4 linked regions of the Homo sapiens genome follow. The protein of the gene in region 3 purifies or fractionates together with the protein of the main gene of each other region. This does not show direct contact. Each region holds a gene or a part of one and is shown on either strand. Other genes may lie near its edges.

Evidence for each region.
Region 1: the proteins of MORF4L1 (region 3) and GATAD1 purify together in Homo sapiens (affinity purification with mass spectrometry; 9 studies listed by BioGRID and IntAct, with this or other methods). This does not show direct contact.
Region 2: the proteins of MORF4L1 (region 3) and RBBP7 purify together in Homo sapiens (affinity purification with mass spectrometry; 7 studies listed by BioGRID and IntAct, with this or other methods). This does not show direct contact.
Region 4: the proteins of MORF4L1 (region 3) and ACTL6A purify together in Homo sapiens (affinity purification with mass spectrometry; 6 studies listed by BioGRID and IntAct, with this or other methods). This does not show direct contact.

The regions. Positions count from the first base shown.
Region 1 is NC_000007.14:92,443,475-92,450,488, forward strand, and holds the start of GATAD1 (GATA zinc finger domain-containing protein 1), read left to right. Parts: upstream 1-4,007; 5' UTR 4,008-4,255; coding exon 4,256-4,504; intron 4,505-5,277; coding exon 5,278-5,403; exon of another isoform or gene 5,404-5,617; coding exon of another isoform or gene 5,618-5,782; exon of another isoform or gene 5,783-7,014. UniProt on the Homo sapiens protein: Component of some chromatin complex recruited to chromatin sites methylated 'Lys-4' of histone H3 (H3K4me), with a preference for trimethylated form (H3K4me3).
Region 2 is NC_000023.11:16,860,360-16,867,386, reverse strand, and holds part of RBBP7 (histone-binding protein RBBP7), read left to right. Parts: intron 1-4,286; coding exon 4,287-4,432; intron 4,433-7,027. UniProt on the Homo sapiens protein: Core histone-binding subunit that may target chromatin remodeling factors, histone acetyltransferases and histone deacetylases to their histone substrates in a manner that is regulated by nucleosomal DNA.
Region 3 is NC_000015.10:78,889,869-78,896,895, forward strand, and holds part of MORF4L1 (mortality factor 4-like protein 1), read left to right. Parts: intron 1-1,120; coding exon 1,121-1,146; intron 1,147-1,615; coding exon 1,616-1,704; intron 1,705-2,343; coding exon 2,344-2,445; intron 2,446-3,670; coding exon 3,671-3,759; intron 3,760-4,189; coding exon 4,190-4,362; intron 4,363-4,951; coding exon 4,952-5,036; intron 5,037-7,027. UniProt on the Homo sapiens protein: Component of the NuA4 histone acetyltransferase (HAT) complex which is involved in transcriptional activation of select genes principally by acetylation of nucleosomal histones H4 and H2A.
Region 4 is NC_000003.12:179,579,907-179,586,933, reverse strand, and holds part of ACTL6A (actin-like protein 6A), read right to left. Parts: intron 6,295-7,027; coding exon 6,233-6,294; intron 6,041-6,232; coding exon 5,926-6,040; intron 5,795-5,925; coding exon 5,714-5,794; intron 3,582-5,713; coding exon 3,486-3,581; intron 389-3,485; coding exon 302-388; intron 1-301.

The sequences.
Region 1 (7,014 bases), on a different chromosome or scaffold from region 3:
TGTACAGTTAACACAATTATCACAGTGGTCCTTAGGTGACGCACATCCTCAGTTTACGAAGACAACAGGATTAAGAGATTAAAGACAGGCATGAGAAATTATAAAAGTATTATTTAGGAACTGATAAATGTCCATGAAATCTTCACAATTTATGTTCCTCTGCCACAGCTCCAGCCGGTCCCTCCGTTTGGGGTCCCTGAATTCCCACAACACCCTCCAAGAAAGTGTTATTCCCTCTGTTGTCCTGTGCACTGTAATGCACAAAATAACTTATTTTGATGATCAGGGTCTTGGCCTCTTGACATACACACTGAAAAAAATGGGAGTTGTGTTATGTGCGTCCTACATAAACATGTCAGCAAATGTGGCCACCACTTTTTAATTCTCTTTTCTCAGATTGCCCTGAATTTTGCCACTTTGAAGTAATGTGCTGAATAATCTCAGCAACCAAAAATGATTATCCAGGAATGATTCTTGTGAGCTCATTTACTCTGAGTTATTATATCCCTTTTAGTAGATTTTATACCCCTTTAGAAAATGTAAGAAGAATGAAAACATCTTCTTTTAAAAATGCTGGTGTGGGGCCATGCCTACTAGAAGAGGCCAGATGGTCAGATAGGTATTTCCCCAAACCCATCTTGACCTTGAGTATGTGAGGGGGTACTGTACTTCATTCCTGATACATTTTGGTTTCCATGTTGGCACTGAGCTCTTGGTTTTCTGTTTGGATGGTGGAGATTGGGGCCCTCCTATTCACAGTCCCTTTCTAAGTGAAGGGAAAGGCTGGTTTTTGCTGTTCCTTGTGATTCCAAAAACCCTGATTTGGGGCCCATGTTCAGGCTGGCTTTCACGCTGGCTCTCAGTCTGGTCAGATGCAATGTTCTTGAGAGGAGAGGACCTGACTGTTACCATAGTAGCATCCAAGAGAGGAAACAGTGTGAATTAAGTACTCAAAAGGAAGCACGATTTCCAAAAAAAAAAAAAAAAGGACTTGCAAGGAGAAAAATGTAAATCTTCCTAATGATCTAAGAAGATTAGAGGATACAGCAGCCAGGGACTGGGGAGCTGACAAGGACAGAGGATGAAGATGAGTGGGATGAGGAGGAGTTGAGAAGCCTGCTGTTGGGTGGTTATTCAGTTGGCCCTCCACAGCCATGGGTTCCACATCCACAAACTCAACCAACCACAGACCGAAAATATTCTCAAAAATAGATAAATATATGAACAATATGACAATAATAATAAACCAATACAGTATAGGAACTATTTATATAGCATTTATTTCATATTTGGTATAAGTAATCTAGAGATGATTTAAAGCACACAGGAGGGTGCGCATAGGTTATATGCAAATTCTATGCCATTTTATATAAGGGACTTGAGCATTTATGGATTGTGGATTTTGGTATCATCGGGAGTCCTGGAATCAATCCTCCATGGATACTGAGGGACAACTGTACATGTGGATATTGACCTGATCCATGGCAGTGTCTTGTAGTGGAGAGGAAGCTGGTGAGTTATGGGCCAAAGTTTTCAGTGAATGAGAGGGAGTCACTTGCAGATGAGTTGCAAGGAGAGGTATATGTTCCCAAATGGAGAGACATTCAGGAGCATGGAAATCAAGTGCCTAGATTTCCTCACACTGTAGGTGAGGAGAAACTTCCTCCTCACCTTTTTTTTTTTTTTTTTTGATGGAGTCTCTCGCTCTGTCGCCCAGGCTGCAACCTCTGCCTCCCAGGTTCAAGCAATTCTCCCGCCTCAGCCTCCCGAGTAGCTGGGATTACAGGTGCCTGCCACTACACACAGCTAATTTTTTGTAATTTTAGTAGAGATGGGGTTTCGCTATGTTGGCCAGGCTGGTCTTGAACTCCTGACCTCAGGTGATCCACCTGCCTCAGCCTCCCAAAGTGTTGGGATTACAGGCATGAGCCACTACGCCTGGCCTCTTCTCACCTCTTTGGTTCTGTAGCTGGGCATGGGAATTACACTAACATAAGACAGATTTACTGGAAAAGGCATAAAAGTTTTAATATTTTTGTACATGCACAGGAGGCTTTGTAAGAAAAATAAAGACCCATAGAAGTTACTAGGCCCGAAAGCTTATATGTCCTTTTAAACAAAAAATAATAAATTGCAGGGATGTGACAAGACAAAGGGGCTTGGGCTAAGGCTGGCAAATTGTGGGAAAGTGACGAAGAACCGTATGTAGAAAGTTAATGGAAAATATGGGTTACAAATTTTTGTAAGGTTTTGTTTGTAGATTCTTCTCAGTGGCAACTCTGCCTCTGGCAATAATATTCTCCTCTTCCTGGTACAGAAAGGGCACCTTTCACAAGGGAACTTTTATGTTCCGCTTCAAACAGAAAGAGGGTGGTCAGACAGCCTTCCCTGCATCTGTTTTTGCTCCATTGCCTCTGGCTCAGAAGAATCAGTATGCCAAAGTGGCATATTTTAGGATGGCAGGCTCTAAACACCTTCAGCATTGTTCTAAAGTGAGACAACACTCTTTACCTAGTCTCCTCAGCCACTTTTACAGTTGGCCCTAATCCCCATAACAGTCCTGGAAACTTATTTTTACTGTTAAGGAAACTGAGATTTAGAGGGGAGGTGACTGAGCCACAACCCACACCCCAGAGGGCTGTTCCAAAGCCCTCCTCGAAATTGGTGCCAAGGGCAGCAGCTATAATGACAGCCAGTCCACATAGAAGTGCCTCCGTTGATCACCAATTAACAGTAAAATCTGATAATATCTCATTCCAAGGTTGTTATAAGCACTAAATGTGGTTTTGTGACATAATAGGCGTTTGTTTCTCCCCACTGCTTCCCACCACAATATATTCATCAAGACCTTTCCAAGGATACTAAGTCTAGGAAACCCAGGATCATGAAGAGAGGGCATGTTCTTCCAAGTGAGGCTGAGGAGAGACTTGTCTGGCGAGGCCTGTACTGACTAGTGACATTAAAAGAGGCGATCTGACTTCTCATACTGCTCTTGTCCCAGGCCTGCTGTTTGTCAACTGCTGGGTCCTCAGAGCCAAAACTGTTTTCCAACAGTTTTGAATTGAATAACAGCCAGCTATTCGATTTTCTCCGCATTCTCTAATCGGTATACTCTTCAGAGTCCACAGGATTTGCAACGATATTATCCAACGGCTGAAGAATGTGCGCTTGACATCTTAGGCTGTAAAATGTCTCAATTTCAATTTCTAATACATAGATGTCAGTGGATGGCATTTTCTGAACCCTTTGTCGATGTCCATAAACGGCATGCTCTGAATTCAACTAAACAAAAGTATAGACATGGGGGAGGTGTAGGGCGATGTCCAAAGTATAATTTTTAAGAGTGTAAAGGGTTCCTAAGTAAGATTGCCAGATTTTTTTTTTTTTTTTGAGACGGAGTCTCACTCTATCCCCCAGGCTGGAGTGCAATGGCGCGATCTTGGCTCACTGCAGCCTCCACCTCCCGCGCTCAAGAGATTCTTCTGCCGCAGCCTCCAGGGTAGCTGGGATTACCCCAGAGCCCGCCACTGAGCCCGGCTAATTTTTGTATATTTATTAGAGAAGGGGTTTCACCACGTTGGCCAGGCTGATCTCGAACTCCTGAGCTCAAGTAATCCGCCGGCCTTGGTCTCCCAAAGTGCTGGGATTGCAGGCGTGAGCCACCACGCCAGACCTGGATTGCCAGATTTAGCACATAAAAATACAGGACCCCCAGTTAAACGCCTCTCGGATAAACCATTATTGCATGGGATACACTCACGCTAAAAAAATTGTTCGTCGTTTACCTGAAAGTCACATTTAATTGGGCGTCCTGTATTTTACCCGGCAAATTCTAGGCCTGAGACCAAAAAGTTTGAGAACCCTGCCCCTAGGCGACAGCAAGCGGAACTGCAGCAAGCTCCCAGTAATTCCGGGTGCTGCACTTCCGGTCAGGCGGTCGGGCTGCGGGGCCCTGGGGCCAGCTCACCGCCGGAAGTCTCCGCGTCCCCCCCACCCCGGCCAGATCCCTTTCCCAGTCCTGCTTCCCAGTGCCTCGGGCCAGGGAATCCTGGCCTCCGCCTGCGGAGCCGGCGGAACCCGCTTCCCGCCTCCACGGGGCAGCGCCAGCGGCCTGGTCCTTTCACCGGCAGCTCCGTGCCGACGCTCTCACCGCTCTTCCTATCGCCGGGAGTGGCGGGCCGACCAGGGGGCGGCCGGGCTACCGTCCGCCATTCCCGTGTCTCTGCGCCCGCGGGGGCCGCCCGAGCCGGCCACCATGCCGCTGGGCCTGAAGCCCACCTGCAGCGTATGCAAGACCACGTCGTCCTCCATGTGGAAGAAGGGAGCGCAGGGGGAGATCCTCTGCCATCATTGCACTGGCCGGGGCGGCGCGGGCAGCGGGGGCGCAGGCTCGGGGGCGGCTGGAGGGACTGGGGGCAGCGGCGGCGGCGGCTTCGGCGCGGCGACCTTCGCCAGCACCTCCGCCACCCCTCCGCAGAGCAACGGGGGCGGGGGCGGCAAGCAGGTGAGCTCCTCCGGCCCCTCCCGCCGGCGGAGGCCGACCAGGTGCTAGGCGGGCGGGGACGGGCTGGCTGGGAGCGGGCGGGCGCGGGCTTCCCCGATCGCCGTGCTCCTGCTGGCTGGAACGCCCCTCCCCACCTCCTACTGAGATCTTTCGTTTGGCCCATTCCGAAGCACCTGTTATTGTAAGAAATTCAAAGCAATAAGAACCAAGATGTAAAGCCCTTAAGAAAATCTCAATATACACATGTCTACACAGTCGTATACAGTGTCATGCCACAAATGCAGGCGCTGGACCTCATTCCTTGTTAAAGGTTTTGTCATATCAGGTTATGAAGTAAGATTATTATGTCATTATTGTAAATGGCAGCTTAAGTATTCCGTTGCAGGGGGCGCCATAACCTACTACGTTCTCTGGCCTTAGGGAGTAAAGTTGTTAAGTGTTTTTCTCTATTGTAGACACAACAAATGAATAGTGTTTGTCTTGGTCAAGACTGACTCCTACTCCCGCCTCCTGCCCTATTACAAGCAGCTCACACCTTTTGGAGGCTCTGGAGACGCCTGTCCAGCGAGCTCCGAGATTCCGGGTGCTGAACTTCCGGTTTTACTTAGCCTAGTTGCTGTAATTACTTCTCTTGAAAAGCAAAAGGGCAATCTTAATTGTTAAATGCTCTTATAAAGTACATACTCTGGGATCCTTGTAAGATGATTGTACTGCAACCTTTATGCACTTTTTACTTCTTTCTCTTTTTGTTCTTTAATTTGTTTGTGTAACAGAGTAAGCAGGAAATTCACAGGAGGTCTGCTCGGCTCAGAAACACTAAATACAAATCTGCTCCGGCTGCTGAAAAGAAAGTCTCCACCAAAGGAAAAGGGAGAAGACATATATTTAAATTGAAAAATGTAAGATATTTGTGGACAGTGCCTTTTACTGTAATGACGTTGTGTGTATCCTGCCACTGCCTTCATTTCTCACCATTGAACTTGGACTCTGCCCTTGGTAGCCCTTCCTTAGTATTCTGGGGAATGGTCCAGATTCCCCAAAAGGGAATGAGCTCTGTTGCAGGAGGCTCACTGTTTATAAAGTTAATAATACTCTTTCCTTTTTGTTTTTTAGCTTTTATTTTTTCCCCTGGAAAATATAAAATATGGGTTTAAAAGAAACATCAACCTTGAGCCCATTTTTTGGGGTTCTCTATGGAAAGGAAGAGGAGAGATTATGGTTCTTGATATGGCCAGGTACACTAAGAAAACTTTTTTTTTTCATTCTTTAAAAATCTAAGTAAATATTAACACTAGAACTCATCATTTGCATATTTATTTGTTATTAAAGCCCCAGAAAATGTATCTTACTGACTTATGATGATGATGTATTTGATGAATATGAGTCAAAAATTTTGCTAAGCCTTATCTCCTCTTCTGCTCTAAGAAAAGAGATTGTTGAAAGACCTGTGCTGGAAGTAGTTGAAAGCATATTTTTATTGCAATTAAATTCTCAGTTTTTATAAACAAGGGATAATGTTCAAACACAGTGGACAGTGCATTATGGACTATTTTTTTAAGTCTCAGTATGATATTCTTTTCTTTCAGAACAGGAATGTTTCACTTACCCGTAAAGACGTTTCTGAAGTTGGCCATATTTATTTCTAAAACACAAAGGGACCCTGCAGTAGACTTATGCAGATGGCAGACTATTTTCTTTTTTTTTTTTTAATTTAATTTAATGAATTTTTTTTAATTTTACTTTAAGTTCTGGGATACATGTGCAGAATGTGCAGGTTTGTTACATAGGTATACGTGCCATGGTGGTTTGCTGCACCTATCAACCCATCATCTAGGTTTTAAGCCCCGCATGCATTAGATATTTGTCCTAATGCTCTCCCTCCCCTTGGCCCCCATCTCCGACAGGCCCCAGTGTGTGATGTTCCCTTCCCCAAAGTATTTTCTTATTCAGACTAGTTGCTTCTAATTTATTTAAGATTTTTATAGTTAAGTGAGGCATTTGTTGATTACACAAAACATGTTATTGATATTTGTATCACATATGCACATTTTTTTCCTTTTAAGTATGGTATACCGTGTTCTCAGCAATTATTTCATTATCGTTTCTCTGCAACCTTTCTTCAATGGTACTAAGCAAGACACATCTGGGGAGGCCTACTTTCTATGTTGTGGCATAAAAGTATGTATTGAAGCTTTAGTAGAGATCTCAAAAATGGTTGGATGGTAGCAAATTACTAAGAACTCTCAAAGTTTCTAAAGCCTTAGTTTCAGCTTGCTAGAAAACCTATGTTGAGTATTATGGCTAGTTCCATAGTTGAGTTGGGAAATGTCTTTGAGGAGACACTTTTTCACTTTGTATTCATCTGTACATTTTCTGTTACTTGCATTCTGTCATGCTCAGGCTATTAGAGCAGGTACATTTTTATAACTGGAATGTTTATGTGTAGTGAAGCTCTGAGAGGACTTTGCATTAGATCTCAGCAGCATAATCAGAAGGTTGTCCTTTGTCTC
Region 2 (7,027 bases), on a different chromosome or scaffold from region 3:
TTTAAAATGTATTAACTAAATTTACCTTTTGGGGGATCTTTTTGACCCACTGTAACATAATAGAAAACAGCAGGGGCTTTAAACTTAGAGACCTGGGTTAAAATCATGCCCCTACTTCTTAGCTTCATGAACTGGGGCCGTGTTGTCTGGGCTGTAAATGGAGATGTTGGTCATACTGACTACCTACATTTGAGGGAATGAAATAAGATCATGCATGTTAAAGTGCCTGGTGCAGCATAAGTACACGGTAAGTGGTGACTGATGCTGATTCTCCCACCCCTTCCTGTTCAGAAATAATTTGTCAGGATTGAAATAGCTCTGTTTCTTCATTTGGATTTCAATGAAAGCTACTTGCTGAAGTTTTTTTTAAAAAAATGTTACCTATAATATGTAATACTTAGGAATGTAACAAAATGCTTTAATTAAATTATTTAATGTGTATCATGGTGTTCTTTGTATACAAAGCTGTTGTGGGATTGGGTTGTGGGATGTGCAGTGGCTTAGAGAATGTAAGAAAATGCCAAGCAGCCTGCATTCTTGGATGTTGAGGATTGTTGTGTGGTGCTTTGCAGGGTTCAGTTTGGGGTATAAAGGGACTGTGTTTTATCACCATACAGAACAGTAAAAATGTTGACTATTCTCAATGCCTGACTCTGAGGAACAAGATCCTACTCCACCTCATAGGCCTTTCTTCTGCTGACTTACAACATGCTTCATAACGATTACTTGGACTTTCTTAGCTATTGTCCTTCAATTGAGTTAGGTAATTGTCCAAATAATTGATTTGGCTGGCTGGCTTGCTTTCTTGCTTTCTTGCTTTCTTTCTTTCTTTTTTTTTTTTTTTTTTTTTTTTTTTTTTTTTTGAGACAGTCTCGCTCTGTCTCCCAGGCTGGAGTGCAGTGGCACCATCTTGGCTCACTGCAGCCTCCACCTCCCGGGTTCAAGCGATTCTCCTGCCTCAGCCTCCTGAGTAGCTGGGATTACAGGTTTGTGCCACCACACCCAGCTAATTGTTGTATTTTTGGTAAAGACAGGGTTTCACTATGTTGGTCAGGCTGGTCTCAAACTCCTGACCTCGTGATCCGCCCGCCTCGGCCTCCCAGAGTGCTGGGATTACAGGTGTTGATTTGGCTTTTAAAAGGTTTTATTTAAGTATCTCTAAGAAATTTGTTTTAATTAGATAGTTATTTCATATCTCTTGTTGAATAATGTCTTAAATATATTGAGACTAACTTATTGTCTACCTAAAAAGCTTTGTAATTTTTCAAATTCAGGAAGTATAAAAGGACATAGAGTGAAGAATAAGTCCCCTTTCCACATCCCTTACTGTCCTACTTCCTTTCCCCAGTCATTGTTTTCAATTTCCTAACCCATCCTTGCCAGCGTGTAGAAGTGCATACCTGTATCTTCATTTTTTATGGTAGCAAGTTCTTCACTTGAGTTTGTCAGTAAGAGTATGTATTGGAGATTTTCCTGTCAGCATGCTTGGATATGCTTGTTCTTTTCAAGAGTGCCATAGAATTTTGTTTATGGATACACTGTGTAATGTATGATACCAGTTCCTTGCTGATGGATACTTAGTTATTTTCAGTCTTTTTCCTTCTATAAACAATACTGCTGAGAATAATCTTGCAATAGGCCAGATTTATGTGATGCTTGGCTAAATTTCCTAGTGGTAGTTACTGGGGTCAAAGGATTCTGCACTGAAAATGAATAGGCTTTCTTAACCATTAGTCCTTCTGCAGCCTTTAGGTACATCCAGTATTGGAGGAAAATAGTGTCATATTGATTAGTTTAGGAAAACAGGCTGTGTTTTAATGATGGAGGTGAAGGGATTTCTAGTAAAAAGAAAAGTCCTCATATGATGATCAAGTTGGGGAAAACTGGAATAATTAAATTTGAGTCCAGAGGGATTTTTAAGCTCCTCCAGTCCGTCTTGGGACAGTGTTCCTTAGAAAGGGCCTGTGATAAACTGACCTACCTGTTATTTTTTACTTGTTGGTCTTAGTTTTCCTGCTCAACTCCACAAAAAACAAGTGACTTTTTTCCTTTGATGACAGTACCAGCATTGCTCTGTGGTGCCTTCTTTCTCTCAAGCATTATTATTTCTCTTTTTAAATATTTATTTAAATTTTTGTTTTTTGTTTTTGTGTTTTTTGTTTTTTGTGGAGATGGGATTTTGCCACGTTGCCCAGGCTGGTCTCGAAGTCCTGGGTTCAAGCAATCCGCTTGCCTTGGCTTCCCAAAGTGCTGGGATTAGAGGCGTGAGCCACCACATCCGGCCAAATATTTATTCTTTTTTTTTTTTTTTTTTTTTTTTTTTGAGACAGGGTCTTGCTATGTTGCCCAGGCTGGACATGAACTCCTAGGCTCAAGCAGTCTTCCGTAGTAGCCCTAGTAGCTGGTACTACGGGTGCACAGCACTGCACCTGGCTTACCCTTTCATTTTAAGCCACTATTCCCTGTAAAGGTTTGATTTTTATCCAAGTCCTCATAAAGTATGTTGCTTAGAGCCTAATTTTAATGGTTTTACTGGTTAAAAATAAGTGGGCAAGCCAGATATGGTGGCACACATCTGTAGTCCCAGCTGCTGAAGAGGTTGATGTAGGAGGATCAACTTGAGTCCAGGAGTTGGAGGCCAGCCTGGGCAACATAGTGAGACCTTGTCTCTTAAAAAAAGAAAAGGTCGGGGGTGGGGGGCACATGTGCTCATGTGCATTGCCCCCTACATACATATAAAGACCACCTAAGATGGAATTAATTAATTTTTTGATAGCCACATCATATTCTTGGCCCACTGTGCATGTATCAACCAAGACCCATGTTTTCTTTCTTTTTCTTTTTTTTTTTTTTTTTTTTTGGAGACGGAGTTTCACTCGTTGCCCAGGCTGGAGTGCAATGGTGTGATCTTGAGATCTTGACTCACCACAACCTCCACCTCCCAGGTTCAAGTGATTCTCCTGCCTCCGCCTCCTGAGTAGCTGGGATTACAGGCATGCGCCACCATGCCCGGCTAATTTTGTATTTTTAATAGAGATGGGGTTTCTCCACGTTGGCTAGGCTGGTCTCGAACTCCTGACCTCAGGTGATCCGCCTGCCTTGGCCTCCTAAAGTGCTGGGATTACAGGCGTGAGCCACGGCGCCCATTTGTCTTTTTTTCAAACACGTTGCTATTGCTTAGTCACGGCTGCCTTACTCTGTTTTGGGGGGAGTGTGTCTGTGTGTGTGTGTGTCTCTTCTCCATGTGCACACACTTTTTTACCGTAAGCCAAATTTTGGTAAAATTGCATCTTGTATTTTCTTATTACTAAATTACTTGCCTAGAAGTAATCTTCAATCTTTTTAGAAAAAAAAAAAAAATTGAATCCTTTGTGCAGCTGAAATTTAGAAACAGATAAATGGCCTAACTTGTCTTGTGTTAGGGCCTAGACCCCTACTTCTCAGTCCTCTTCATTGAAGTGGGACCATGGAGCACAGTTGAAAATTGTATTCTAGATAATACAAATGGGAAAGCCTTTTTAATAGATACTGATGCAAAAATCACTGCTCGGACCAAGGTGCCAAGAGGTTTGGGCAAGTTCTTCAGCCTCAAGGTGTTTCCACAGAACAAGGTAACAAAGATACCTCGGTAAAATTGAGAATGTTCGTTTCATAAACTTAGGTATCATAAACGTCAGTGAGTTTCACATCATGCCATTTGCACTTATAGCCTATTTTATTCAGTGAAGAAACTGAGGCCCCAGGGAGGTTGTGTTTTAAGCAACTGCATTTTAGTTTGATCCAGGATTTAAGCTAAGTTTTTTTGATTCAACACTTTCTGTCCATACTACCTTGTAGAATTTCTTATTGGGAAATAAGAAACATCTAGTGTATAAGATATTTTTAGGTGGGAAGAAGATTTCTTTAGGTGGGAAGTTGTGATTTATGAGTGTGGGGATTGTTGGTGGATTCCTGTGTAGATGTTTGTCTGTGTTTACTGAGTTGGGCCTACCTTCCCCGGAGTGCTGCTCTATAAAAGGTAGTGTTCACGCTGATAATTGAGGCACAGGAGGATGGCTCTTTGGGAAAGAAGCAAGCCCTCTGCATGTTGTAGCTAGAATATTTTCTTATATTTGCATATGTGGGGATTGTAAAGTTGGTAACCAGAGGGGGAGAAGATACACAGTTGATGCTAAGTATATATTTGCTAAAGAAATATGAATGTATTTTGAGGGAACTAGACTGAATTTGTTAGCAATTGGAGATTTCTTGTAGGATTAGTGTGACTTATTTTCTTTCTTAAACAGACCTGAAGGAAAAGATTATGCCCTTCATTGGCTAGTGCTGGGGACTCATACGTCTGATGAGCAGAATCATCTGGTGGTTGCTCGAGTACATATTCCCAATGATGATGCACAGTTTGATGCTTCCCATTGTGACAGTGACAAGGGTGGTAGGTATATCATATATTCCAATATTGGTGTCAAAGGGAAAATGTCTCTTTCAAAGCATATGCTATTAAAACTATACTATTAGCTTTTGGCCCAGTAATTTAACTTCTAGGACTTTATTCTACAGAACTTCCCACCCACATGTGCACAAGGATTTTAGTCGTAATTGCAGAATTGAAAAATTAGGATCAACCTTGTAACCCAGATGTTGGTTCATAGAAAGTTGGTTAAGCACATGGTATGTTTGAAATACTACTCAGCAATTAATAAGAAAGGCCAGGTGCCATGGCTCACGCCTATAATCCCAGCACTTTGGGAGGCCAAGGTGGGAGGATTGCTTGAACTCAGGAGTTCAAGCCCAGTCTGAAAAACACAGACCTCATTTCTACCAAAAATTTAAAAAAAAAATTTTTTTTTTTAATGAGAAAAATCTGTAGGCACTGGTATAGGAAGGTATCCAAGATAAATTAAGTGACTAACTGCTATGTGTAATTACAGTATTCCACTTTGGTAAAAGTAATATGTGTTGGTGTGTGCAATGGGTATTTTTTGTTTGAGGAGAGAGGCAGTAGTGGTAGGGTTAATTCAGGAATCTGTTGGCTGCTTTTTTCTTTTTTTAATTTGTCAAACATATACTCTCCTGTTTTGGTATTCCCATGACCACCCCAAGTTTGGTGATTTTGCTAGGACTCCCAAGAGCAAATTATACTTGTGGCTAAAGTTTGTTACAGTAAAGAACACAAAAGCAGCAGGAAAAAGATGTACATCGGCAAGTTCAGGGAGGTCTGGCACAAGTCTTGTCCAAGGCCACACAGGATGTGTCTTCCGGCAGCAAACTGCAGGGACATGTGTGAAATATCTCTGCTCAGGGAAGCCTGTTTGGGTCTTGGGGTCTGAGGCTTTCTTGGGGGACTAGTTGCATAGGCACATCCTGCTGACAACCAGCCACAGCAACTGTAACTTGAGGACCCCAGTAATACAAACTGAGGACCCAGTAATAAAAGAAGGTACGTGTCATCAATCTTGATATCTGCAGAGTAACCCTGACAAACTGGTACAACGCGGTCCATTGCTCCAGGTGCACACCACAAAATCATCAGTTCATCAGTGACAGAAAGAACATTCTGAGGTGCATGTTCCCAGGAGTTAGCCAAGGGTCAGTAATAGGGTCCCAGTGTTCCTCAGAGACTCCAGGGCTAAGCACCCAGACTGCTGTATTAACTCTTTCTTCACAGTCCCAAATGGCTTAACGCTATTAGCACTTTCTAATATGTGCCTTAGGGTTTTTTTCTTATTGAAAATAAAATACTGGCCAGGTGCAGTGGCTATACCCATAGTCCCAACACTTCGGGAGGCCAAGGCAGGAGGAACGCTTGAGCCTGGGAGTTTAAGACCACTCAGGGCACACAGTGAGACATTGTCTCTATCAAAAAATAAAATTAAAAATCAGCCATGTGTGGTGGCGCATGCCTGTAGTCCTAGCTACTTGGGAGGCTGAGGATCGCTTGAGCCCAGGAGTTCGAAGCTGTAGTGAACTAGGATCACACCACTGCACTCCACCCTGAGCAACAGAGCAAGATCCTGTCTCAAAAATACTACATTCTCTAGTGTAGTGAAACTGCTAGGTTGTATGGTGTATTCATTGTCAACTTCATAGAAAACTATTTTCCAAAGTGATTTACCCAGTTTACTACTCCCACAATTTACTGTTCATTCCCCGACAACTGTATGCATTATTTCTTTAAATATTGGGGTTTTTTTGTGTTTTGTTTTTGTTTGTTATGAGGCAGGGTCTCGCTCAGTCGCCCAGGCTGGAGTGCAGTGGTGCAATCTCGGCTCACTGCAACCTCCACCTCCTGGGTTCAAGTGATTCTCGTACCTCAGCCTCAAGAGTAGCTGGGATTACAGGCGTCCACCACCATGCCCGGCTAATTTTTGTATTTTTAGTAGAGACTGGGTTTTGTCATGTTGGCCAGGCAGGTCTCGAACTCCTGGCCTCAAGTGATTCGCCTGCCTAAACTTCCCAAAGTGCTGGAATTACAGGCATGAGCCACCACTCCCGGCCTGAATATATTGTAATCAGAAATTTTTAAATGGCTTTTAGCCCTGAAGTATGTATTTACCGGGCTTGCAGTTTAACAGTCTCTGCATAATGATGTTAATATATTATTAAAGTTACACATCCAGTGTATTCTAACAAGTAGCTGAAATAATTCAGTTAATACCTTTGTTAATATTCAGTATATATATTTTTTTTTTCTTTTTTTTTTTCTTTTTTTTTTCGAGACGAAGTTTCGCTCTGTCACCCAGGCTGGAGTGCAGTGGTGTGACCTCAGCTCACTGCAACCTCTGCCTCCTGGGTTCAAGCGATTTCCCGAGTAGCTGGGACTACAGGCGCCCGCCACCACACCTAGCTGATTTTTTGTATTTTTAGTAGAGACGGGGTTTCACCTTGTTAGCCAGGATGGTCTTGCTTTCCTGACCTCATGATCCGCACGCCTTGGCCTCCCAAAGTGCCGGGATTACAGGCATGAGCCACCACGCCCGGCCAATATTGAGTTACATTTTTTAATGGATATTATCATTAAGACAGTGAC
Region 3 (7,027 bases):
AGTAATCCATAATCATGGGCTCTATAAACTGTTTCCTTTGTGGTCTAGAAATAATAATGTAAAAAAGCAAAATTAGGCCAGGCATGGTGGCACACGCCTGTAATAGCATTTTGGAAGGCCGAGGTATGCGAATCACTTGAGGTCAGGAGTTTGAGACCAGCCTGGCCAACATGGTGAAATCCCGTCTCTTAAAATACAAAAATGAGCTGGGAGTGGTGGTGGGTGCCTATGGTCCCAGCTACTTGGAAGGCTGAGGCAGGAGAATCGCTTGAACCCGGGAGGAGGAGGTTGCAGTGAGCCGAGATCACCCAACAGACAGAGCAAGACTCCATCTCAAAATAAATAAATAAAGCAAAATTAGCAATTTACCATTTGACAGTATATAAGTGACGTGAGGTAAGTTGCTGTTAGAGATGATAATCAAGATGAGGAGACTTAAAACAAAAAAATTACACAAATCTAAAAATATTTTGGGGAACAAAAATAATTGGAAAAAAATTTTAACCTTTGACACCTTTTTTTTTTGGTGGGCCTAATAATGTAGTATATACTATAACATATATTAATATAACCCTGGAAGAACGAAGTTGTTTACTAAAGTGTTCTTGGTTTGCTTTTCTTTTTTTTTTGTCTTTGAGACAGGGTCTCTGTCACCAAGACTGGAGTGCAGTGGTGCAATCAAGGCTCACTGCAGCCTTGGCCTCCTGGGCTCAAGCAATCCTCTCACCTCAGCTTCCCAAGTAGCTGGGACTATAGGCGTTTGCCAGTATGCCCAGTTAATTTTTGTATTTTTTATAGAGAACAGGATTTGCCATGTTGCCCAGGCTGGTCTGGAATTTTGAGCTCTAGAGATCCACCCCCTCTTCACCTCCCAAAATGCTGGGATTACAGGCATGTGCCACTGCGCCTGGCTTGGTTTATTTTTTTCTATTATGTGGAGAGAGATGGGAATTTAACCAACTATCAATAAAAATCCTTGTGTCTGAGTAGGACACATATTTACCACCTGATCCTTTATCCAAGTTAGTATTTCTCTGTGAACTTAACCCTGATAAAGGGAGTTGAAACAGAGGCAGTTTTACTGGAAATAATTATTTTTCTTTTTTTTCTCTCCTTTTAGGAAAACGAAAAAGAACAAACAGAAAAGTAAGAATATTAACTTTCTTAACGTTAATTTATGTTACCTCTATGACATTGACGTTTTTATTTTGAAAGCTATGAAATTTTGGAGTAAGCTTATGTTTATTGATTATCTCAAATAGGAGTCTCACAGCAGTGTTATAAAATAGGTACATGGTGGTAGAGACCTCTTTTTGCCAAGGAGAAACTTGTGAGCATTTATTTTCATCTGCTTTAGTCTTAATGTCTCCCACTGAGAAGATAACATTTATAAATAAATGGAAGATGGTGATACTAAATGTTGTCTATACTAAATGTTCGGTAGAGCTCTTCATGAAAGTTGTATTTTTGGTAGGAATATGATTCTTTAACTTAGATTGAGGTAACAGCTGTGTAATGGAGAAATAATGAAAAGGGTTAATGTGTCAAGAGACTATTTTCCTTATAGAGTTTGTTAAATTAGCTAAATGAGACCCCTCCCCGCCAACATTTACAGCACCTGGAAATGGAGATGGTGGCAGTACCAGTGAGACCCCTCAGCCTCCTCGGAAGAAAAGGGCCCGGGTAGATCCTACTGTTGAAAATGTGAGTTTTTCTTGTGTTTATGAATAGCATGTTAGGATTTTTAGTCTCAGTTACATGACATAACCATGGGAGCTTTGATTATCTACAAGATTTGCTTACATGGTTAATACCTGAAATTAAAAATTTTCTCTTTTGGGGGTAAAGGATAAATTTCTGTATATCTTTATTTCACCTGTAGCTCCAGATTTACCTACCCAATTGATCATTTGTTGTGTAAGCTTCATGTTCACCTACAAGACTATTTCTTTGGTGTTACGTATTTATTTTTAGGAGTTAAAGATGTACCTTTAAGATGGTTGTGTTTGGAATAGTTTTGATATCCATGGTAAATAAGAAAATACTAAGTTAAAATGTATCAAGTCAGGGTGTTTCATTTCCTGAACAAGAGGAACCTTACTGAAGAATTTTTACCTTTACAAGAAAATGCACTAAATAGACTATAGTTCAGGTCAGATTCTTTTCTCCCAACAGCGAACCGCGTATGGTCGTTTTTATTAATGATTTTAAAAAATGACAGTACAGCTGTATGCTTGGCTACTTTAAGATTTATCCCTAGTGCCTCTAAAAGTCAGCTCCCCTCCATGTTTGGTATTTAGCAAGAAAGGTTAGGTTTTTAATACTCCTCCTGTTTCTGTTTAGGAGGAAACATTCATGAACAGAGTTGAAGTTAAAGTAAAGATTCCTGAAGAGCTAAAACCGTGGCTTGTTGATGACTGGGACTTAATTACCAGGCAAAAACAGGTAACTTGAAAAGCTACCCAGATTGTTAAGCTATATGATACATTCTTGCTAGCAAAAAAAGTTTTTAAAGGAAAATGTTATATTGACTTGAATTATTAAGGTATGACTGATAAAATAATATTTTAATTTAGAGGCTGAACACTTTAGAACTACTACCAGAAAGAGTAAGTTAGAAGAATAAAAGTTCACATATAAATTTTATGAGGTTATAATGATAAAGGTGGAAATAACTCATTTTTGGAGATTGCTAGGGCAGGAACTCGTTCTGAAAATTCATAAAGGTGAAGAAGCATATGTCTTACTGTCATTGCTAATGGTAGGCCATAGAAAGCACACACCACCACCTGCAAGGTATTCATGACCCTGAAAAGAACCTGAATCTTACTAAGCGCCTGGATCTATTGTTAGTTTGCAGGAAATAGGATGTTTAATGGAGTGACATGTTTGTCAATCGTTGAACTCTATAATTGAGAATTTTATAGGACAAATGAAGCTATTTGAACAAATGGCATAGGTAGGGTTAGGGATAGTTGGGGGAGATGATTAGGGACTGCTTGAGGATTATGAGACTTAAGAGACCTATCAGTCATATACAGTATGTGGATATAGTTTGAATTCTGATTTGAATCCTTTGGAGGGTTATGCAGTTACAGCTAAACTGCGAAGATTCAAGCATGGCTGTATCACTTATTATTTGTGAGTTTGGACAAGTTTCTTAGCCTTTTTGTGCTTCTGTTTTTGCATTTAATGGAATAATAGTTTGTATTTGACAATGCTGATGAGAGGACGAAAAGATAATTATTTTAATGCTTTAGACTAGATCTAGCAAATAGTATGCATAACAGTAAATGATGACTTGGTAGTACCACAAAGGCACATTCGTGTCTGTTATGTGTGTGTGACAGATTGACATTTTTAAAAGCTGTGCTGTTCTGTCTAGTAGAGTCTCATTTGGCTGTTTAAATATATAGATGCTCCATAACTTAGAATGGGGTTACATCGCAATAAACCCAGCAGAGAGTTGGAAAATTAAGTCCAAACCATTGTAAGTTGGGAACTGTCTGTAGTTTCTCAGCCACATTATCCATGTTTTAAGTGCTGAATAGTATCTTTCCTAATTTGAAATACTGTTACTGTTACCTGATCTTTGTATAAAAACTTGCCTGGTATGATTTTTCTTTAAAAAAGAGAGTGCTTATATTTAAGCATATTTTTGTCTTCATAGCTCTTTTATCTTCCTGCCAAGAAGAATGTGGATTCCATTCTTGAGGATTATGCAAATTACAAGAAATCTCGTGGAAACACAGATAATAAGTAAGAATATACATTTTTCAGATGACACTCAAAAGACATTTAAAAAAGTTTCTAAATAAGTCATCTGAAACTTGTACTGACTCCGAAACATTAATACCACCAGAAACTAGCAAAATAGAATTTCACTGCTTTGACACAGGAGTTGGCTGGCTGACTTTTTCTTAAAGGGCCAGATAGTAAATATTTTAGGTAAAATTTAAGCTATCATGTAGGTATTTGCATAACCATTTAAAATTTAACCATCTGAAAATGTAAGAATCATCTTAATTGCTTTAGTTTGTCAAACCCTGCTTTCATATGCCCTTTAAAAAAATCTCAGCTATGGTTCATTATTACTAGCTCAGCTTTTAATTCTTTAAATTGGTTGAATTATTCTCTATGTCAGTTATTTTTATTGACCAGTTTTGGAATATTTTTGTTCATTTATCAGGGAGTATGCGGTTAATGAAGTTGTGGCAGGGATAAAAGAATACTTCAACGTAATGTTGGGTACCCAGCTACTCTATAAATTTGAGAGACCACAGTATGCTGAAATTCTTGCAGATCATCCCGATGCACCCATGTCCCAGGTGTATGGAGCGCCACATCTCCTGAGATTATTTGGTAATATGTCATGTAGAAAATAATGGATTTTACTTTTTGGGGGGTCTTCTCTAAATGAATAAGAGGTAAAGTAATTAACTTTCCAAAACATGACTCCCATTTTAATTTGAACTTTTATCTAGAATGTTAAATAGCAAAATCTCTTTAGGAGCAAGAGTTTTAAAAATCGTGTATTTTATTTTATAATTTTTTTTTTTTGAGACAGACAGTCTCTGTTGCCCAGGCTGGAGTGCAGTGGTGCGATCTTTGCTCACTGCAACCTCCGCCTCCTGGGTTCAACAATTCTCCTGCCTCAGCCTCCCAAGTAGCTGGGATCACAGGTGTGCACCACCACATCTGTGGTAATTTTTGTATTTTCTGTAGAGATGGGGTTTCACCACGTTCGCCAGGGTGGTCTTGAATACCTGACCTCAAGCGATCGCCTATCTCGGCCTCCCAAAGTGCTGGGATTACAGGCGTGAGCCACTATGCCCGGCCTAAAATCATGTATTTTAAAGGAATTGGTGGTGTTTGCTCACATAATTAAAATACATGGTTGTAGTGCCCCTGCCTTGGATGTAACTTTGGATAAATTCTCTTGTTTAAACAGTACGAATTGGAGCAATGTTGGCTTATACACCTCTGGATGAGAAGAGCCTTGCTTTATTACTCAATTATCTTCACGATTTCCTAAAGTAAGTCTGTGCTTGAAATTATAAACATGGATTTGAAAATTAGCGTGTAATGGGAGGGATTGGCAGTATAGATGCTAAAACATTAAACATTATATTGGTACAGGCATAGATAGTTGGTAATGGAGCAGTAAAAGTAAGTGCAAACACATGGGAGTCTCAGAAATGATAGATGGTATATAGATGATATATTGGTGCAGTAGGGGAAAGCAGTGGAGTCTGGTAGATTGGTGATAAGACAGCTGACAGTTTGGAAGAAAACAAAGCCACACTTGTCATGTACCAAAATTCTAGATGAATCTGAAGTTTAAAATTAAATTGTTAAGATAATGAAAGGAGAAATGTAATATTTTCATAGTTCTATAGTGTTCCATTTATGATAAATGGTTGGTACCTTTAATACACACAGAGTTCTTCGGTAAGAAATGAACAAACCAGTGAAAAGTAGGACAGGAAATTTACATCAATGGCAGCACAAAGGACCATTAAAAATATGTCAGAAATAATGATGAAAGTATAAACTGTCAGTAAAGTAGCACTTGTCAGATTGGCTAAGGTTTAAATGTTTGAAGAAATGGAGAAAAGGGCAATCCTGGTTTCTACAAGTTTTTGGAGGGCATTTTTATAATAGTGAAGAATTTGAAACAAGCACTTATTAAAAGGGTGAGGTCACTCTAAACATACTGATAAAGATGTCCATGTTTTCAATTGAAAAACAGCCAAGCTGTAGTAGAGGAGTATGGTGTAATTGTTACTTGTAGAGAAACATTATTTTAATCTTTGCATAAGATCTGGCTTTCCAATGTGGATCTTAGTTAATACTGGGTTATTTCTTGGGCGTGGTGTTGGAAGGGAGGGTGGGAGTTTTCAGTTTCTACTTTGTATACTTCTGTATATGAATTTTCTCATTACAATCGTTTTACAGTAAATTTAAAACTGCAACGTGGACTTGAGAATGTAGGCAAGATTTATCATCTTTTCTTTACTAATGATAAATACCTTCTTTGGACCTCAGTTTCTTTATGGAATGTGCTCTACTACTTGACATTTCACGTTCCCTTTTATGTAATTAAAAAAAAAAAGTTTATTCATTTAGAGATGGAGTCTTGCTCTGTCGCCCAGGCTGGAGTGCAGTGATGCGATCACAGCTCACTACAACCTCCGCCTCTTGGGTTCAAACGATTCTTGGGCCTCAGCCTCCCAAGTAGCTGGGATTACAGGTGCACACCACCATGCCTGACTGATGTTTGTATTTTTAGTAGAGATGGGGTTTTGCCATGTTGGCCAGGCTGATCTTGAACTCCTGGCCTCAAATTTTTGTGCCTCGGCCCCCCAAAGTGCTGTGATTACAGGTGTAAGCAACTGTGCTTGGCCTGATAGGATTTTTTTCTTTTTTCTTTTCTTTTCTTTTTTTTTTTTTTTTTTTTTTTGAGATGGAGTTTCACGCTTGTCCATGCTGGAGTACAGTGGCGTGATCTCAGCTCACCACAACCTCTGCCTCCAGGTTCAAGCAATTCTCCTGCCTCAGCCTCCCGAGTATCTGGGATTACAGGCATGCGCTACCATGTCCAGCTAATTTTGTGTCTTTAGTAGAGACGGGTTTCTCCACTTTGGTCAGGCTGGTCTTGAACCCCAACCTCAGGTGATCAGCTTGCCTTGGCCTCCCAAAGTGCTGGGATTACAGGCATGAGCCACCACTCCCGGCTGATAACGATTTTTTTTTTAGAAAATGTCTAGATGTTCTTTTAGGGTAATGCTGTCATGTAATAGGATAATAACTGTTTCTTAAAGATGGTTCAAGCTCCCAAGTTGGTATTCTGCAGACATAACTGTTCTTTGCTGTTTAGAAATAGGGGAGTAACTCCAGAGTTCATTCCTTTGTATATGTATAGTGTTGTTCATTGTATAACCTTATTTATTTACCTGAATTGTCATTATGTGTGGTTTTACTGTGAGAGAATGTCTGGTTTAATGTATTTTAGGAAAGTGTTTTC
Region 4 (7,027 bases), on a different chromosome or scaffold from region 3:
CTCCAGACAAGCCCTGACCAGTGCCAATGGGGGTATTATTAGAAAAGGCATGCATACATTAACATATTTCCACCTCTGTTTGAGAGGGGACATTGAAATTAGGCTGACAAATGTCCACTAATTAGGCAGAGGCATTTTGTTACATCAGAACACATAAAACTGGTTATTCCATTAGGTCTTCCACTCATTTGACAGTTATAAAATGCACAGACAAATGAAGCACTGGAATTATTTTTTGTATTTTTACTAAATTTAGTATAATTCAGTAAGAATATTTTTGCAAAGTAGCTCATCTACTAACCAAAGAGGCTAGAATGGAGCCGCCAATCCATGAGCTAAACCTCCGTTCCACTGTTGTATTATTTGCAATCAATTTCAACCGCATACTCTGAAATAGAAGAATATGCATTAGTACAATCAAATCTTGTGACTCAACTTAGAAAATTCTTTTTTTTTTTTTTTTTTTCAAATAGAGACAGGGTCTTCCTCGCCATATTGTCCAGGCTGGTCTTCACATTTGCACTCAAGCAATCGGCCCATCTCAGCCTCCCAAAGTGCTGGGATTACATGCATGAGCCACTTGCACCCAGCCAGGAAATTCAATTTTGACAGACTTCATAATGGCTCCCTGTGGTTCAAACACTGATTAAAATACGGTAATTTTGAAATAGCCAAGATAACAAGCATAGGTTAGACTAATGTACAGACTTTTAAAAGTACTTTGATTATGGCTTTTAACATGCGATTATATGATGAGAAAACATACAAACTTTAAAAAGCTGCATACTGAAGTATAGCATTCACAATTTCTATCCTAAAATAGCAAATCCACACCTAACACTATAAATCTGGTGCTGTGCTAAGTCTTTATTATTTCATTTCATCCAACACCAACCTAATTATCATCCCAATCTGTCTCCCTTTCTGTAGTCCTCCCCAACCTTCTAACTGCTTCCTTTCTAGGCTTTCATGCTATCCTAATCCCTCCTTAGTTCACCCCAACCCTTCTAAATAAAAACACAACCATCAGATATCAGGTTAGTTTTTTATTCATACTATTTCCTTCCAAATTAGTGCTTCTGTTCTGACTCTCATTTTCTCTTGATAACACAATTTTATTGCACAGTACTATCCCCTATATCTCACTTCCTATATGAAGAGGTTTTTTTCTTTCTCTTACCAAGGAATCTGCCTCTGGGGACAGTTCTCAAGTTGTTGACATCTTCCTATTATTCTATAAATGAACATATTTTTGGGGCTTTTCAAAGTGAAATAAGTATGTGTGCAGCAAGGGTGGGTAGAGTATGGGATATGGGTGGGTAGAAGGTACTGGGGATAGGGTAAACATGGGTTTTTGTAGGTAAGAAAGATTGGTAACTATTAAATAGAATTTTTTTCCTGTTCTTTCAGAGATTGTTATCACCTCCTAAAGGACAAGGATAGTTTCTAACTGGCCTTGACCACAGCTTGGGCCATGCTTATCTGTATTCATTATTCAGGGACTTTCTATGAAATCTAATCATTAGTATTATAGACCGGTGCAGTGGCTCACGCCTATAATCCCAGCACTTTGGGAGGCCGAGGCGGGTGGATCACCTGAGGTCGGGAGTTTGAGATCAGCCTGACCAGCACGGAGAAACTGCATCTCTACTAAAAATAAAAAATTAGCCGGGTGTGGTGGAACATGCCTGTAATCCCAGCTACTTGGGAAGCTGAGGTAGGAGAATCACTTGAACCCAGGAGGCGGAGGTTACAGTGAGCTGATATCGTGCCACTGCACTCCAGCCTAGGGGACAAGAGCAAGACTCCATCTCAAGTAAATAAATAAATAAATAAATCTCCAATCAATCAATCAATCTAATGATTAGTATTATAATTCAGGTATGCTCTAGATCTCCAAGAATTTAGAAAATACAAGGCAGATGTCAACTGTGTGCCTATATATTTAGATATCACTTTTAATAATAGAAATGTGGCACACGTAAAACATTATTTTATATGGGAAGCTAAAAGACTATTAAATATACAGATTTATAGATATTGTTAGGGCATATGTAACCACTAATAAGGTTTTTTAAATGTAATCTTCAGTGCAGAACACCTTACAAAAAAAGCACTTGAAGTTTTGTTGTTGTTGTTTTTTTTTCCTGAGCCAGAGTCTTGCTTTGTCACCCAGACTGGAATGCAGTGGCATGATCTCGGCTTACTGCAACCTCCGCCTCCTGGGTTCAAGCGATTCTGCTGTCTCAGCCTCCCAAGTAGCTGGGATTACAGGCACGTGCCACCGTGTCCGGCTAATTTTTGTTATTTTTTTTTTTTTTTGAGATGGAGTCTTGCTCTGTTGGAATGCAGTGGTGTGATCTCAGTTCACTGCAACCTCCACCTCCCGGGTTCAAGCAATTCTCCTGCCTCAGCCTCCCGAGTAGCTGGAATTAAGAGGCTCCCGCCACCAGGCCCAGCTAATTTTTGTATTCTTAGTAGAGATGGGGTTTCACCATGTTGGCCAGGCTGGTCTCCCTGACCTCATAATCCATCTGCCTCGGCCTCCCAAAGTGCTGGGATTATAGGCGTGAGCCACCACGCCCAGCTGATAGAAATTTTAAAGTTAAAAGATTATAACTGTCATTCTGTTACCGAAGTACTATATAAATTACCTTCTCAAACCGAGTTTTTCTATTCTTTTAAAAGTTATTATAATATACCCACTGATCTTTTTAAAACAAACATGAGCTCATCAGTCCACTGCTAGATTTTATCCTGTGAAGAAGGAGGTATTTTCCCCTAGAGATTCAGCATAGCTCCACTGACACCTTGAGGCTTCTAGCCTCAAGAACTATAAGACAACAAATTTCTGTTGTTTGAAGCCACTAACATGTACTTTGTTACGGCAGCTCTAGGAAACTAATCCATCTTTCTAGCCATATTGCTTTCCCCACTTACGTAAAGACTAGAAGCCAACTACTTTGAATTACTGGAACATACCTGTCTTCTCTTAGTATTTTTGTAAATGGTTTTATTCCCTCCATCTAGATATCCTTTCATAAATTAGCAATGAGTTGAACTATTCATTCAAACTATAGCTTCTTCAGGAGGCTATCCTCTGATACTCCTAGAGAGTTAAGTAGTGGCTTCTTGGTGTTCCCAACAGCACCTCGTTCATGACATACTGAATTGTTGAGCATGTTACAGTCATCATTTTCTGCATGTCTAACCATCCTAGTAGACTGAGCCCTTGGTGTGCAGGGACTAGTGCCTAGCAGACTATACATATTTAAATATTAATAAATGAGATTCAAATAATTTAAGAGAAACTAATAGATGTCAACTAGGAAAACGATTAAAGGATATTAACTTTAGTGATACTATACCAGGCACACACAAAATATCATGTATCTATTGAAAAATGGACGCTTATCTACAAAATTACACCATCAGTGAGGAAATATATGACTGAAGAATACCATTAAAGAACAAACAGAACTTACTGGAGGAGTTTTCTGAGACAGCTCTCTATTCAACCTGTCAGTAAAACTCTGTATTAGTGTGTTTCCTCCTGCCACTATTACACTGCCATAGAGACCCTAGGATAAAAATACAAGAAAAATCAATTAGTTCCATATGTTTCCAAAAGTTTTAAATACAACTACAAATATAACCATGTGCTCTACTACAATTTCCCTTTCGTTTTTTGGAAATGTTTTACTATTATATAGAACTAATAGCTTAATCCATCAATTCTCCATCCTGGCTGTACATTCAACTCATCTAAGGAGCTTTTAAAACACAAATTCCTAGGGGCAATTAAATAAAAATGTCTGGGGATGGGATCCAGGCAAGGTTACTTTTAGAGACGGGGTCTCGTTATATTGCCTACATTGGAATGCAGTGGCTATTCACGGGCACAGGCATAGCGTACCACAGCCTCAAACTCCTGGGTTCAAACAATCCTGCCTCAGGCTCCCAAGTAGCTGGGACTACATGCCACTGTACCTGGCAGGCATGGTTTTTAACTCCCAAGATTATTTTAATGTGTACAAAGTTTTAAGAACCACTAACTTAAAGGAATCATTCTAAAAATCATAATTTTTTTTTGGCAGATAGCTGCCAATATTTAATTAGAAGTACATTTTATAATGACTTTATCTTAGAATGCTCATCTGGAAATATTAATAGCAACCACCAGCCAAAAATTAAAATTACAAATATTTTGAAAAAGAATGCTTATCTGTAAGTTAGGATATTCAAAGAATGCTCATCTGGAAATATTAATTGCAACCACCAGCCAAAAATTAAAATTACAAATATTTTGAAAAAGAATGCTTATCTGTAAGTTAGGATATTCAAAATTAGACAATTATTTTATGATTATGACAGACAATGATAAACTCTGAACATATTCCTCGCCAAAATTATTGCTACTTTTCTCTTTTGCAGAGGTAAGCATCAGAAGCACATGGGAGCTTTTCCAAAACACATATGCTAAGCCCTTCCCAAATAAAAATAAATTACTACTTATAAGCAGTGTATTTACTTTGAATTTGCATGTATGCATCAGAAAGTTAAATGTCAAACTGTTTTAGTGGGTAAGTTCCTATTTTTAAAACATACTTCAAATGTCTAAATCATCTAAATTTTGAAGTAGAAAATGGAATGCAAAAGTATCTCATTAGTTAAAAGGAGAAACTTCACTAAAAACAGTTATCACTGTTGCAATAAATATACTTCAATTCAATTACCTTCCCCGAAAGGTGGAATTGTATTTGCGCTAAAAAAATCCCAAACTTATACTACTATTGTCCTAGAAACATCACATGCCTACTAGGTTACCAGGTGAAATAAAGGTAAAATAAAGTATGATTTTCATAGCCACTCAAAGCCTTTTTTGAATAACATAGTAGTTATTAGCACTATGCTTTAAGCAAATTAATTTACTCAAAATCTAGGCAGTATGTGGGTGATAAGCTGAATTGGGTTTAAATAAGATAAAGTAAGTCCTCATTTAATGTCATCAATATGACCTTGGAAACTGACTTTCAGCAAAATGTCATGTAACAAAACCAATTTTTTTCCTGAAACAATGTCCTTCAAGGACCTACTGTACATCGTTTCAGTTAAAGTTGCAGTCTCCAAGAACCTATCACTGATAATGAGTGAAGTATATAATATGGAGTTAGTATTTAAAACCTGACAAAGCACAAAAAATATGAAGAGCATTTAAAATAAACTTCATGTAAAAGTTACTCATATAATTTAAACCACGCCTTCCTGAAAAATAAAAGTAGAAGTTGTGCTATCTGTAAGAAAATCACCAACAATACATATTTTGGTTTGCCACATTTCAGGAAATCTCTAGCGCAGTCTACAATAACTTTCTGTGATGATGCAAATGTTCTATATCTGCGCTGTCTGATGCAGCCACTAGCCACATTTATAATGAGGCTACTACAACTGAAGAATTGAGTTTTATGTTTTTATCTATTTTAAATTTAAATTGCCACATGTGGCGGGTAGCTACAAAACTGGACACCATAGCTCTAGAGTTTCACATTTTTCCTTTTCTAGTACTTCATCTTTTTACATATACTGTTATAAAATGAACCTCAAAGTCAATGACACTGACAACCATTAGATCACTGTCAACCTAACAATGATTTGGGGACATTTCAGTCCCCTAAAAGATACCTTTAAACCGTAACAGGAGACTGGCACTTACTGGTCTGATGTCAATATCACACATCCCAACACTTGTGGTGACAACATGACTGACTCCTAACATTGTGTTTCCTGATAACCCCTACAACAAAAGAAAACAAGTAGTCACATGGAAGCTCTTCATACAGTAAAGCATATCCAAAACATTTTAGCCACAAAAGCTCTTTACCTATATAGGAAAAGCCAGGCTAATTATGAAATAAGCTTTTATACCTTTACATTGGAAGGGTCAAATAATCCTTCTGGAATCTTTAGCCGCTCTGCACCAAAATCACAATTGTAGCCATTGGGGAATTCATAATGAACAGTTGGCATCTGTGCAGCCACTCTGAAAACATATTAAACCGTATTACACAAAAGACAAAAAATAATTCTCTTCAAAATTATAAACTACTAGGGAATTATAAACTTGTAAAAAAAAAAAAGGGAGTGAGAATATTTTAAACATTATTCAATTAAGTATTTTTTAAACAAATCCTTTCCTCATTTATAAAGTATACATTTTAATAAGAAAACATACTGTTCATCATAAGTTGAATCTGACACTTGAAGTACCGAAGCTTGAAAATCCTGGATAACACACTGTGAGTAAAAGAAAAAAGTAACAAACAAGGTTGAGATTTATCTTTGTAATCTATACTTTTATAACATATTTTAAATACTTTTCTGAATGAAATTGGACCATGTTTCTAGATGGGTAAATCATTTCAAGAGTATAAATGTACCTAACAAGGATTCTGAGTATCAAGAAACCTAATTCTAATCATTTGCATTAGAAGTTAATTACACACATTTAAGTTACAACAGTTATGAAATGAGAGATAAATAACTGCAGGTGCAGGAACCCCTGCACCACAGTTCTGCATAACAAAACCAATTTCAGAACACCACTTTCTCCTTAAAAATAAGCTAGATTAGAAGCAAGATTTCATTACCTACATATACACATGTGCATGTACATCACATTTTATGCAACTTTTAATGACTGTACATAGTATAAAACAGTTTAATAAAATGTTGTGAACTAACACGACCTCTAGAAAAATCTTGTCTAATATCTAGGAAAAATGACTAATCATCCTAATTTTTCCTCGTATATTACATGTGCACACAGACAAAATCTTTATCTTTAGGTGCAAAAACTGTCAGAGCTGGATGCAGTGGCTCATACCTGTAATCTCAGCACTTTAAGAGGCCGAGACAGGAGGATCGCTTGAGGCCAGGAGTTCAAGACCAGCCTGGGCAACATAGCGAGACACTGTCTCTATAAAAATAAAAAATTAGCCAGGCATGGTGGCATGCACCTGTAGTCCTC